Homo sapiens: one gene and its partners. The protein of the gene in region 1 interacts with the protein of each later gene in a pairwise test. Each region holds a gene or a part of one and is shown in the gene's direction. Other genes may lie near its edges.

Region 1 (3,500 bases):
GGTAGTCAGAATGGGGCCTAGTAACATTCAAATTCTAAATCTCGGTGCCTCTTGACTACTTTCCTGATTCATAGCCTATTTCTCCAAAATGTGATAAGAATAAATGTATGCTGTCTCCAGTCCTTGGGAAAATGGAGCCATGGAATCAGGTGGCTATTGCATTCGCTGTTGTCTAAATGATTGTTCTTCGCTGGCAGCCTTTTAGGTTCCTCAGAGGTGACTGAAGTGATTTTTCTATCACTTATCTATTGCTGTACAAGTAATGGCCGTGAAACTTTGTGGCTTGTAACAACAAATATCTTATCTGCCCATGATAAAGTATATTAACAATTTGAACTGGGCTCAGTGACTCAGCCAGGCATTTTTTCTGCTGATTTTTGCACCCTCTTCACATACCTGCAGACATCTGATGGCCGCACCAGGGCTGAGTGATATAAGGGGACCATACTTCCCTGCAAGCAATTGGCCAGGCCATATATGTCCCAGCAGGCTAGCCCAGGCTTCTTCACTTTCTTCGCATGGCAGCTGGATTCCAAAAGTAACACAAGAGAAGTAAGACTTCTTGTGCCAACACTTTTCAAGCTTCTGCTTGTGTGTGTTTGCTAGTATCCCATTGGCTAAAAGCAAGCCATGTGGTTAGCCTGGAGTCACTCCGAAGAGGGGCCACACAAGGGCCTGGATACAGAGGCTTGATTTCTTGGGGCGATCACTGAAGCAGTTGTCCATAGCTCTCATGCATGCCACCAGTGCAAAGGGTCCCTGTTGTTTCTGCAAATTATGACAAATTGTGATTTTTGATGCTTACTTTCAAAGAGAAATCACCAAATTTGTTGCCATCATTCTTGACAGTCATTCCTGAAGTGGAAACTTAGACCACATCAGGTTTTGCATTCTTGTCCTATATCATGAAGCTAGAGAGTTTATGTCAGAAGTCTAGTCCTCAAAACAGCCTCTTGCCCATTGTGACCTTTAAACAGGTGCTCAGCCCTGCCAAGCTGGTTGGGCTATATGTGTGTTGTGCAGGTCCTCGAGTGGGCTCAGGAGAAGCGTAAGCTGAGCGTGTTGCATATTCACGGAGTCTACACCAACCCTAGTGGCATTGTCCTTCATCCGGCTGGATATCAGAACGTGCTCAGGAACACTGAAGTCATGGTGAGTGGGGCTGATCTTGCTGGTCTCAGGAACTCCTTCCTGGGAAATCTCTCTAAATATGCCATAGATCTTAAAGGGGAACATCTTCTTTTCATTAAGTGAAAACGGAAGGTCAGGGGCTAGGAGCAGTGGCTCATGCCTATAATCCCAACACTTTGGGAGGCCAAGGGGAGAGGATCACCTGAGGCCAGGAGTTCGAGACCAGCCTGGGCAACATAGCGAGACTCTTGTCTTTACAAAAATAAAATTAGCTAGGCATCATGGTGCATGCTGTCCCAGCTACTTGGGAGGCTGAGGCAGGAAGATTAGTTGAGACTAGGAATATAAGGCTGTAGTGAGCTGTGTCTAGAGCCACTGCACTCCAGCTTGGGTGACAGAGCAAGGCCCTATCTCTAAAAAAAGAAAGAAACTGGAAAGTCAGACGTTCTTCCTGTGCTTCTTAACTTATGGGTGTGCATGCTGTCTAGGAAATGTAGAATTTCTCTTAAGGTGTCAAACCCTATGATCTTTGTTTGTACTTAATTGACAACCAGCAGATGGCATGTCATCATTGGCATCATCTTCACATACAAAGGATACATTAGTACCCTTTATCATCATTTGGTTTATTAATAGCCCTCTCTGTGTCAGAAATAATTGAGGCAGCTTCTTAACAAACCAACCACTACTAGAGAATACATTCTAAAGAGACTTTGTATAAATGGCAATGGGCTTATATTGAATTAACCACATTTATTCACACTTACTCTTTGTGAAAAGCTTATTGATCTTTTGGGATGCACATTTTCGACTTGTTCAGATAAACATGTTCAAACCAGAAGTATTCGCTGCCCCCAGCTCTAAGAATCTTGTTTGCTGTTTTCAGGACTGGGTCATATAGATTATAGCATCTTTTAATAATGAGGCAAAAGACCGAGAAAATGTATTGTCTAAAGCACAAGGGACTTTTTTTTCTTTTTACCCATTCTTTCCCAACATCTGCCATAACTGCATCCATCTCTGACATTGAGTGATCCCTTAGGCAGTCATTTCTGTGTTTTTGTGTGTGTATATGTATACACACACACACACATACTGATGTTCTAAGTATCAAACGCCTTTCCTTGAGCAAATCCGATGATGGAATTATCTTCTCTGGTGATTCACAGTTCAGTTTGTGAGACAAAGGCAAATATGGTCCAGAAATGGAAGGATTAAGATATATGAAGACCTACTCTTTGCACAATGACCTCTGGGCACATAAATCTAAAAAAGTACGCCTGTAATCCCAACACTTTGGGAGGCTGAGGCAGGCAGATCACATGAGGTCAGGAGTTCCAGACCAGCCTGGCCAACATGGTGAAACCCTGTCTCTACTAAAAATAGGAAAATTAGCTGGGCGTGCTGGCAGGTGCCTGTAATGCCAGCTACTTGGGAGTCTGAGGCAGGAGAATCGCTTGAACCTGGGAGGCAGAGGAGGTTGCAGTGAGCCAAGACCATGCCACTGCACTCCAGCCTAGGTGGCAGAGCAAGACTCTGTCTCAAAAATAAAATAAAAATAAAAAAGTAAACTACTGGCCAAGTGCAGTGGCTCACGCCTGTAATCCCAGCACTTTGGGAGGCCAAGGTGGGTGGATCACTCGAGGTCGGGAGTACCAGACCAGCCTGGCCAACATGGCAAAACCCCGTCTCTACTAAACATTCAAAAATTAGCTGGGTGTGGTGGTGCACACTTGTAATATACTCGGGAGGCTGAGGCATGAGAGTCACTTGAACCAGGGTGGTGGAGGTTGCAGTAAGCCGAGGTCACACCACTACACTCTAGCCCAGGTGAAAGAGTGAGACTCCGTCTCAAAAAATATATAAAGCATAAAAAATAAAGAAGTAAACTACTGCACCAGTACACTGACACCAGCTCTATGAAACGCTGATTAGAGAGCCTACAGAAGAATGGCAGGTAAAGATAAAATTTTAGACCAATCATCAAGTTACAGCAATAAGCAAGAGATCACACTCCTTGATGGGACATACCAACCCACTTAAGTCTTGCTTAATTGGTCATCACAGTCTGCTCAACGTAGCATGACCTTCTTGTTTCAGACTTGCCTTGAGTGTGTCTTCACAATGTCAATATGTTGTATCTTTTCCTTCCAGAGAGAAATTCAGAAACTCTACGAAAACAAGTCATTTCTTTTCCTGGGCTGTGGCTGGACTGTGGATGACACCACTTTCCAGGCCCTTTTCTTGGAGGCTGTCAAGCATAAATCTGACCTAGAACATTTCATGCTGGTTCGGAGAGGAGACGTAGATGAGTTCAAAAAGCTTCGAGAAAACATGCTGGACAAGGGGATTAAAGTCATCTCCTATGG
Region 2 (3,500 bases), on another chromosome or scaffold:
TATTCCAGTTCTTAGGGGGAATGCTTTCAGCTTTTCCCCATTCAGTATGTTACCTATGGGTTGTCATATATGGCTTTTATTATTTTGAAATATGTTTCTTCTGTGCCTAGTTTGTCAAAGGTTTTTATCATGAGAGGATGCTGAATTTTGTCAAATGGTTTTTATATATCTGTTGAGATGATCATGTGGTTTTTGTTTTTAATTCTGTTTATAGGCTGAATCACATTTATTGGTTTGTGTATGTTGAACCATTCTCGCATCCTTGGAATAAAACCCACTCGATCATGGTGGCTTATCTTTTTGATGTGCTATTAGATTTGGTTTGGGGGGTTTTGTGGGGGGATTTGTGTTTGTTTTTGGAGGATTTTTGCATCTACATTCATCAGGGATATTGCTCTGTAGTTTTCTTTTTTTGTTGTGTCTTTATCTGACTTTGGTATCAGAGCAAGAGTGGCTTTCTAGAATGAGTTAGGGAGGATTCTCTCCTCTTAGATTTTTTGAAAGAGTTTTAGTAGAATTGGTACCAGTTCTTTGTACCTTTTGTGGAATTCCAGTGTACCTTTGTCTGGTCCTGGGCTTTTTTGTTCTTGGGAGGTTTTGCATTGCTGATTCAATCTCACTGCTCATTACTGGTCTGTTTAGGATTTCTGTTTCCTCCTGGCTCAATCTTGGGAGCCAGATGGGCTCAATCTTGGGAGGTTGTATGTTTCCAGGAATTCATTTTCTCTAGAATTTCTAGTTTTCAAGTGTATTGTTCATAAGAGTGTCTGATCATGTTTTTTATTTCTATGGTATTAGTTGTAATGTCTCATTCATTTCTGATTATGTTTATTTGGATCTTCTCTTTTCTTGGCTAGTCTTACTGGCAGTCTATCAATTTTATCTTTTCAGAGATAAAAACGAGCTTTTCGTTTCATTGATCCTTTGTATGGTTCCATGGTTCTCTATTTTATTTAGTTCTGCTGTGGTCTTTGTTATATCTTTCTTCTGCTGACTTTGGGTTTGGATTTTTCCTGTTTTTCTAGTTCCTGGAGGTGAGACACAGGTTGTTAATTTTTTATCTTTTTTTTTTTTTAGTGTAGACATTTAACACTATAAACTTCCCTCTTAGCACTGCTTTTGCTTTATCCCAGAGGTTTTGGTATATTGTATTTTCGTTTTCATTCATTTCAAGAAATTTTAAAATTTGTCTTGTCATTAACCCAAAGATTGTTTAGGATCATGTTTAATTTTCATGTATTTGTATAGTTTCTAGAGTTCTTCTTGGAATTGATTTCTAGTTTTATTCTGCTGAGGTGTGAGAAGATACTTGGTGTGATTTTGGTTTTTAAAAATGTATTGAGACTTTTTTTGTGACCTAACATATGTTCTATCTTGGAGAATGCTCCATGCACTAATCAGAAGAGTGTATATTCTGATGTTGGATAGAATGTTCTGTAAATGTCTGTTAGCTCCATTTGACCTAAAATTTAATTTAAGTCCAGTGTTTCTTTGTTGATTTTCTGTCTCAGTCTATCTAGTGGTGTCTGTGGGGTGTTGAGGTCCCCCACTGTTATTGTATTGCTGTGTATTTTTTTAGGTCTAATAATATTTGTTTTATGAATTTGGGTGCCCTGATGTTTGGTGTGTATATACTTAGGATTGTTATCTTATTTGTTTATTGATCACTTTATCATTATGTAATGACTTTGTCTTTTTTTACTGCTGTTGATTTAAAGTCTTTTTTTATCTGATATAAAAATAGCTACTCCTGCTCGTTTCTGGTTTCCATTTGCATGGAATATCTTTTTCTACCGCTTTACCTTCAGTCTGTGTCTTTATCGGTAAGATGAGTTATGTTGCCATTTGACTTATCTTCTTTCTTTGTGTAATTATTTTATAAGGCCTGCAAGTTTTATACTTTTGTGTCTTTTATCATGGCAAGTATCAACCTTTTGTTTTCATGGTTAGAACTCACTTGAGCATTCCCTGTAGACCTGGTCTAGTGGTGACAAACTCCCTAAGTATTTGTTTATTTGGGGAAGGCTTATTTTTCCTTCATTTATAGAGCTTATTCTAGTAGGATACAAATTTTTTTGTTTTTTGAAGCAACTTGAAAATAGAATCCAATCTCTTCTGGCTTGTAAGGTTTCTACAAGTTGAATTGTGTGATGGAGCTTCCTTTATAGGTGACTAAACACTTTTCTCTTGCTGATTTTAGGATTTTATCCTTCATATAAACCTTAGTCTGATGACTGTATGCTGTGGTGAGTTCCATCTTGCAATGTATTTTCGTGGAGTTCATTAGATCTCTTTTATCTGGATATCTAAAGCTCTTGCTAGATTAAGGAAGTTTTCCTCAATTATTTCCTTAACTAGGTTTCCAAACTTTTTACTTTTTCTTCTCCCTCAGGAATACCTATGATTCATAGGTTTGGTTGCTTTATGTAGTTTCATACTTCTTAGAAGCTTTGTTTTTTCTTCCTTATTCTTTTTTCTTTACTTTCGTCTGACTAGATTAATTCAAAAGACCTGTCTTGAAGTACCGAGATGCTTTCTTCTGCTTGTCTAGTCTATTGTAAAAGCTTTCAACTGTATTTTGTAATTTCTTCAATGATTTTTTCATTTCCAGAAGTTTTTATTTGTTTGGCTTTTTAAAAAAAAGATACCTATCTCTTTCTCTTTGGTAAATTTCTCATTCATATCCTGAATTGATTTTTTGTATTGCTTTTCAAATTTCTTTTGTATCTCATTGAGCTTCCTTAAAATCAGTATTTCAAATTATTTATCTGGCTCATTTTTTCCTTTATGATCTTTATTTCTTTTATGTTGTTTTTTTCCTGTCTTACTGCACTGACTAGAACTTCAGTAATGTTGAATAAAGGTTGTGAGAGTGGATATACTTGCCTTGTTCCTGATTTTCTGAGGGAAGCATTTAGGTCTAATTTTAGAATACTAAATCAGCCTTGCATTCTTGAGATAATCACTACTTTGTCTTGATTTATCCTTTTTATACATTGTTAGATTTGATTTGATCACATTTTGTTAAGAATTTTATAAATATGTTCATTAGGAATGTTAGTCTGTAGTTGCCTTTTCTTGGAATGTCATTGTCTTATTTTGGTGTTAGAATAATGCTGGCTTCCTAAAATGTGTTGAGAAGTATTTACACCTTTTCATTTTTCTGGAAGAGTTTGTCTAGCATTGGTATTGTTTCTTCCTTATATGTTTGGTAAAATTCATGGATGAAGCCCTATAAGCCTGAACTTTTGTTTGTGGAAATATTTGTAAGTATGAATTCTGTTTCTTTGGTAGATAAGGGCTATTCAGATTATCTGTATGTTCTCAAGTAAACTTATTTTGTGTCTTTCAAGAAATTTGTCCAGTTCATCTGCATTGTTGCATTTATTGCCATAAAGTTCATAAGTCCCTTATCCTTTTAATAATATATACAGGATCTATAGTGATGTCACCTCTCATCCTGATATTTGTAATTTGTATCTTCTTTCTGTTTTTATCAT
Region 3 (3,500 bases), on another chromosome or scaffold:
GCAGTGTGTTCAACATGGGTACTAATTCCTGGAAGTGGTCAGTGCTAGGAGTGGTCAGGGTGTGGTCAGGGCCCAGCCGTGGGTAGTGTGAGTATCCCCCATCCCCATGGAGAAAGGGAAAGAACCAGGGGGCAGAGGAGGCTGCTGATGGTTGACTTTCGTGTTCGCCCAGCTTCCCACCCAGGGGGTGGGATGGAGCTGGGAAAGACCTCAAGCTTTGCAGTCCTACCATCTAGCCTATCTCTGTGTGACCTTGGACAAAAAAGTCATCCAACCTCCTTCAGTCTCCTTTTCCTTATCTGGAACTAGGGATAATACTGTAAGAGATAATACCTCACAGATATGTGAGAAGGTTCATATGCCTGGAATGTAGGAGATGCTCAGAAGGCTTCCAGCTTTGGTTTAGAAATCATAAGAACTTTGAGCTGGCAAGGACACAGGAGAGGGACAGCAGGCTTGGCCCAAGGTAGGAGAGGGGAGCCTGCAGCAACAGCATAAAAATCACCGGACACTCGTCCACACTCAAAGTATCCGTTTTTAGATAGTCCAGTCCCCTTTGCTCTCCTCCCTCCTCTTCCCCAACCCTGGCAGGATCCTCCTTCCCCATCTCCCCAGTCTCCTGTTCTTAGTTCCCAAAGAAGAGGCATCCCACCCTGGAAAGGGTGCAGGACGCCCAGCAGGGATGCTAGGGGTGGGGGGTGCTGGAGAATCAGCGTCCGCTGCTGTGGCCACCTGGGTTGCCAGGAGGAGGGAGCCGGCGGGGGATGGCGGCAGCCCTGGTGGCCGGGGCGCGCGTGACCTGGCTCCCCGCGGCAGTGTGGCACCCTGCCTGAGACCGGTCCCAACGAGAACCTGACGGAGCGCAGCCTGCAGGACGCGCAGCGCCTCTTCCTGATGAGCGAGGCCGTGCAGCCGGTGACACCCGAGCCCTGTGTCACCCAGGACAGCGTGCGCTTCTCACACCTCGTGGTGGACCTGGTGCAGGCTAAAGACACGCTCTACCATGTACTCTACATTGGCACCGGTGAGCCGGCCCGGTCCAACCTGGACTGCAGGTCGGGGGTGGGTTGAGGGACGGCGCGGGGCTGCAAGCTTCCGGGGCCTTCAAGGCCACCTTGGTCTGGCTCCCCCTCTCCTCCAGAGTCGGGCACCATCCTGAAGGCGCTGTCCACGGCGAGCCGCAGCCTCCACGGCTGCTACCTGGAGGAGCTGCACGTGCTGCCCCCCGGGCGCCGCGAGCCCCTGCGCAGCCTGCGCATCCTGCACAGCGCCCGCGCGCTCTTCGTGGGGCTGAGAGACGGCGTCCTGCGGGTCCCACTGGAGAGGTGCGCCGCCTACCGCAGCCAGGGGTAAGCCGGGACGGGGCGGCTCCCGAGGCCTCCACTGCGGAGGAGGCGCTTAAGAGGCGGGGCTTTGGACCCGGGAGACCTGGGGTCGGTCCCTGCAGTCTCCACTAGTGTGCCTTAGGACAAGTCACTCCACCTCGCTGAACCTTGGTTCTCTCCTCGTAAAACATCTTGCAGGGTTTTTGTGAGGGTTAATTGAGATAATCTCCATAAAGCACTTATCAGTACCTGGAGGAAGTGTGTGCTTAGCAAATTTTGGTGGGTGGCTGTTGTTATCCCTGTTGTCAAACACATAGCTAGGGCCAGTCAACCATCTCTAGCCCACTTGATTTATTCTCAGTCCTTTCTGTACAGAGAGTTCTTTATCTTTGAAGCCACAGCACTTATTGCCCAGATGTGGGGACAGATGGAGATGATGCTTTGAGTCAGCCCCACGTTTTTGCTCCTCTTGCTTCCTTCCTTAGAAGAGGTAGAGAGGGCTGCTGCAGGTAGGGCAGAGGTGAGGCGCCACGTGGAGGAGTTGCCCTGGCTTCCCACTGCTTCTGAACTTGGTTCTTCATGCCGTAGCTTCAAGCGGACTCACAGATTTGACAACTGTGGCATCAGTGTTTAAGGGGGAAACCAAAGCCTATTCCAAAGCCAAATGGAAATGTAGCCCAGACTCCTACCACCCGAGGCTCTCCCAGGCTGCATGGCCTCATTTTCATGATACTCAGAAGCTGGCACCACCACAGCCATGCGAGCTTCTGTGGCCTTTGCAACCGAGAGTCCTGGCTGTGCCATCTGTCCTCAAGATTGGGAAGACAAATGGTATCCATGATACAGGGCTGTTCTTCAGCTCCAGTGGGGTGTGCTCGGAGCTGGGCAGAGGCCTGTGGGGCCAAGAGGAGCTGGATGGTCTTGGTGAGGCAGCCAAGGAGGGGGAGTCTCAGGGCAGACACTCCAGCTCCCTTCAGCCCCAACACAAGTCTCCATCAGCGAGACACCACACACTTACTAAGACATACCATGTTCAGGACACTTTGTAAGACTGTTGGTGTGAGAGAAGGCAAGAGAAATAGGCCCCGAACACTGATTTCCCTCAGATCTCCAGATATCTGGGTGGGAAGAGAACCTTGGCCTATATCAGACATGTGGGGAGAGATGGTCGGGTGTGGGGGGAAGGACTCACATGGTGGAACCAGACACACCTGGGGCTCCATCTCAACTCCATCATCTACTAACCGTATGATCTTGAACAACTAAATCTTTTTGAGCTTCGGCTCTCTCATCTGGAAAACGGGGAGACATTTGATGGAGCAAATGATGTTTAACAGGCAGAGTTGTAAGGATTGGGACTAGTATTCATAAAGTGCCCAGTCTAGCAAATCACAAGAGGTAGCTGGTATCTTTATTACTTCTTATCTCCCCAAATGCATTTAGGAGCCCTCCAGCCTCCTAGGCCCTCTGGAGTCTCATTGAATATAGTCAGTACAGCTTGGCAATGAATCACAGGCTTTCACATATGGCTTGTTCTCCAAGAGGTTGTAAATCCTTAAAGGCAAACCCAGTGTCTCAGTATTTTTTATACTCCACCAGGGAGTCCCACCCAGCCCAAGGCACCAAGTGGCCTTCCACACATGACTGATCCTTCAGTTGACTGACTCTTTGGCGTGAGAGGAGTTTGGCGCAGGAGAAACATGGGGAATGGGACTGGAAACTGGATTGAGGCCAACTGAGAAGGCCAAAGGAGGACTTCGACTTGAATCCTGTGGCTGTGGGCACTGGAGTGGTCCTAGAGCAGTGGAGTGCAGTCACGGGCTGTGTGAAAAGATCAATCAGACAGTGGTGAACAGCACTGTCATGTATCAGGTGGATGGTCCAGGTGGCCTAGTATGGCTCTAAGCCAGATCTGAAGGAACGGGGCCTGCAGTGGACGGGAGGAAGGAAAGGGGCTGGGATGTTCAGCTCCAGTGGGGTGTGCTAGGGAGGCCTGCGCTCACATTCTGCAGAGAGGGGCTGGGGAGCTTGTGTAGTGTGCCCATTGCACTCTTGCCCTGGAGCAAGGCACAAAGAGGTCAGTTTGGAGTTTGGTGCTTTCATCCTATTTTGTTTCCTGACTTTGGGATAGGAGCCCTTGATGTGTACAGTGAAAACCCTGCTAAAAAACTATAG
Region 4 (3,500 bases), on another chromosome or scaffold:
GAGGTGGAGGCTGCAGTGAGCCAAGATTGTGCCACTGTACCCCAGACTGGGTGACATGGCCCACAGACCAAGACCCTGTCTCAAAAAAAAAAAAAAAGCTTTTTTCCAGAGCCATCTTGCTGTCCTCATATATTTATTCTCCTAGATGAATTGTTGCTTAAGCAACAATGAAGTTTAAATTGTTCTTCAGATAGAACCCCTAGGTGCCAGGCAGTTTGTTAAGCACTGACACCGCAGTCCTGTGACTTTCATGACGACCTGTGACCTGTGGGAGGTAGAACACCTCACCCACCCGTGGGAGCCCCTGGAGTGACTGACAGGAACCCCTGCCTCACCCAGCTCCCCGCGCCGCGGCTCTCCCCAGCCCTGGATGCAGGCGCCCAGGAGACATGTATTGCTTTTGTTGAGCTGCTCACTTAGGAGGGTGACTCAGAGTTCAAGCTGGAAAGCACTGGCTTGTGACTCATGAGCCAGTGCAAGATCAAACGGCTGGGGCATCGAGGTGAGAGTTTTCCTTCTCAGAAGCCTCATCTCCGCAGCCGGAAGCAGAGCCCTTGGCTGACTGGAAAAACCAGAGAGGCCCCGGGAGTGGGTGGATGGCCAGCCCAGCCCCACCTCTCAGCCTCAACCTCCACCAGCCCACACCGAGCTTGTTTGTCTGTGTCCTGTCGAAACTAGGACTCCTGGATTGTAACTTTTCTTACATTTCCCTGTCCCCTGGGTCCTCCACTTAGGGTGTAATCACACAGACAGGCTCTTAACTGTTTCATATCACTCACTTGGGAAAGTGTCTCAAGCTGTTCTACAAATCCATGCAAAGGCCGTTTAAAAATAGCAGCGAAGGCCCTGGACTCGGTCTCGTCCAGCACAGCCCCTTGGCTCTCTCTCTGGGCTCTGGCCGCCTGGCCCCCGGGGACCCACACGAGGTCATGGCGTGCTTCGGGCAGGGGGGCGGGGATCCCATAGACACCTCAGCTCCTTAAGAGTTCTCCGCCTGGGCCAGGACGAGCATGGGGGTCCCCACTGATGCCCGAGACGGTGCCCCTGTGTGTGTGAGCCCTCGACCCACATAACAGAGAGGTGTCCTGATGCCCTCTGTCCTCTCCAGGTGGATCTAGGATCCGGCTTCCAACATGTGGCAGCTCTGGGCCTCCCTCTGCTGCCTGCTGGTGTTGGCCAATGCCCGGAGCAGGCCCTCTTTCCATCCCCTGTCGGATGAGCTGGTCAACTATGTCAACAAACGGAATACCACGTGGCAGGTAGGCTGTGGGGCTGCGTCCTATGTATGTCCCCTCCCAGGTCGGTCTGTGCACACTGACTCCAGGAATGGGAAGCCAGCCCTCACTGTGGCCCACAGAACATTGTCCTGGACTGTTGAAAAATGGCCCTGACCCTGAGTCATGTCGGCTCTGGACCACGCCTCCCTCCTTTGTCCCATACCCCACGTGTGTGCATGAGTGTGTGTGCATGTGTATGAATATATGGTTGTGTGCACGTGGAGGTGTGTGGGGGAGTAAGTGAGCTTCGGAAGTGTTCAAAACCAGCTAGCCCCTGTGACGCCCGCCGTGGCACAGTGGCAGTTTATCAGTCCCGCCCCTGATTCCCTTTGTCTCTGCCCAGCCCTGACCCTCGGACTGAGAACCAAGAATGAGGAGTGAGCCATGTTGAGGGCTGGAGAGGGTCTCTGATTGTCAGCAAATGGGAGCAGATCAGGGGAGACACCCACTCTGCCCGTGTGTCACTCTGGGCTGTTCCCCAGTGCCCCCCAACCCTTGGGCCCTTGAATTGGGTAGGGTCTCTGGTTTTCCCTGGGTTGGGCTTCGTGTGTGGGCAGCGTGCCCATCCACCGCCATCCCGGGAGACCCTTCAGTCAGTGGGTGACTCTCTTCCAGGCCGGGCACAACTTCTACAACGTGGACATGAGCTACTTGAAGAGGCTATGTGGTACCTTCCTGGGTGGGCCCAAGCCACCCCAGAGGTGAGTGCCTGCTCCTCTGCACCGCTGTAATGTGAGTGGCAGGCGTTGGTTTGGGGCAGTGGGAAGTGGGAGAGTGAAGGCCTCTCTGGCGTCCGCAGGGCTCATGCTGCCCAGGGCTGCCGACACCGCTTGAGGTACAGTACTTGTTTCTTTTCATTTTTATATTACTTTCTCTTTTTATTTTATTTTTTCCTTCTCAAGTTATTAGTAGAGAAGATGCTGGTGCTTTTTTTTGGTTTTTGAGAGAGTCTCACTCTGTCACCCAGGCTGGAGTGCAGTGGCACGATCTTGGCTCACTGCAAACTCTGTCTCCCGGGTTCAAGCGATTCTCATGCCACAGCCTCCTGAGTAGCTGGGGCCACAGGCTTGCACCACCGTGCACGGCTAATATTTGTATTTTTAGTAGAGACTGGGTTTCGCCATACTGGCCAGGCTCGTCTCGAACTCTTGGCCTCAGCAAGTCATCTGCCCAACTCGGCATCCCAGAGTGCTGGGATTACCGGCATGAGCCACCCCCAGTGTTTTCTATTGTGCTTCTCCAAGGTGTCTCAGCCGCAGATGTGACAGACAAGGTCTGGGTCCCCACTATGTGGGCAGACTCAATCTTGAGTAATTTAAGGGAAATCTAAGAAAAGCCAGATGAGGCCAAGTATGGTGGCTCACGCCTGTAATCCCAGCACTTTGGGATGCCAAGGCAAGCGGATCACCTGAGGTCAGGAGTTCGAGACCAGTCTGACCAACATGATGAAACCCCGTCTCTACTAAAAATAAAAAACTTTGCCAGGCGTGGTGGCGGGCGCCTGTAATCCCAGCTACTCGGGAGGCTGAGGCTAGAGAATCGCATGAACCCGGGAGGCAGAGGTTGCGGTGAGCTGAGATGATGCCACTTCCCACGTGAGGATGGGGTAGTTAAGTTGCACGACACTGCCTTCTGCACAATGGGGATGATATGAGAAATGATGAGAGGATCCTGGGCAGAGGTTGAGGCAGGAGAGCAGGGCAAGAAACACTATCTGGACTGAATAAACTTATTTAAAAATGAGTTTATAATTTGTGGATAAATTCATCTTAAAAAATCCATTACATAAGCCTAGAAAGAAGCGTACAATATCGCAAGTCAGGCCAGGTGTGGTGGATCATGCCTGTAATCCCAGCACTTTGGGAGGCCAAGGCAGGCAGATCATTTGAAGCCAGGAGTTTAAGACCAGCCTGGCCAACATGGTGAAACCCTGTCTTTACTAAAAATACAAAAATTAGCCGGGTGTGGTGGTGCATGCCTGTAATCCCAGCTACTCAGGAGGCTGAGGCACGAGAATCGATTGAACTCAGGAGGCAGAGGTTGCAGTGGGCAGAGATCTCGCCACTGCACTCCAGCCTGGATGACACAGTGAAATTCTGTCCACTCCCACCCTCCCGTCCCACCCAAAAAAAAAATCAAAAGGTGCATTGAGCAACAGAATTTCCTTTTGTTTTATGAAATTACCAAGGACACCTGTCTGCAGCCTTCTTCGGCATGTCTTGT

The links.
Region 2: the proteins of FAM118B (region 1) and ZNF235 interact in a two-hybrid assay, tested with the Homo sapiens proteins (one large-scale study listed by BioGRID and IntAct).
Region 3: the proteins of FAM118B (region 1) and SEMA5B interact in a two-hybrid assay, tested with the Homo sapiens proteins (one large-scale study listed by BioGRID and IntAct).
Region 4: the proteins of FAM118B (region 1) and CTSB interact in a two-hybrid assay, tested with the Homo sapiens proteins (one large-scale study listed by BioGRID and IntAct).

Annotation. Positions count from the first base shown.
Region 1 is NC_000011.10:126,253,282-126,256,781, forward strand, and holds part of FAM118B (protein FAM118B), read left to right. Parts: intron 1-977; coding exon of another isoform or gene 978-1,023; coding exon 1,024-1,152; intron 1,153-1,869; exon of another isoform or gene 1,870-3,285; coding exon 3,286-3,500. UniProt on the Homo sapiens protein: May play a role in Cajal bodies formation.
Region 2 is NC_000019.10:44,291,526-44,295,025, reverse strand, and holds part of ZNF235 (zinc finger protein 235), read left to right. Parts: intron 1-3,500. UniProt on the Homo sapiens protein: May be involved in transcriptional regulation.
Region 3 is NC_000003.12:122,919,764-122,923,263, reverse strand, and holds part of SEMA5B (semaphorin-5B), read left to right. Parts: intron 1-816; coding exon 817-1,024; intron 1,025-1,141; coding exon 1,142-1,349; intron 1,350-3,500. UniProt on the Homo sapiens protein: May act as a positive axonal guidance cue.
Region 4 is NC_000008.11:11,851,088-11,854,587, reverse strand, and holds part of CTSB (cathepsin B isoform 1 preproprotein), read left to right. Parts: intron 1-1,108; 5' UTR 1,109-1,133; coding exon 1,134-1,259; intron 1,260-1,892; coding exon 1,893-1,978; intron 1,979-3,500. UniProt on the Homo sapiens protein: Thiol protease which is believed to participate in intracellular degradation and turnover of proteins. Cleaves matrix extracellular phosphoglycoprotein MEPE. Involved in the solubilization of cross-linked TG/thyroglobulin in the thyroid follicle lumen.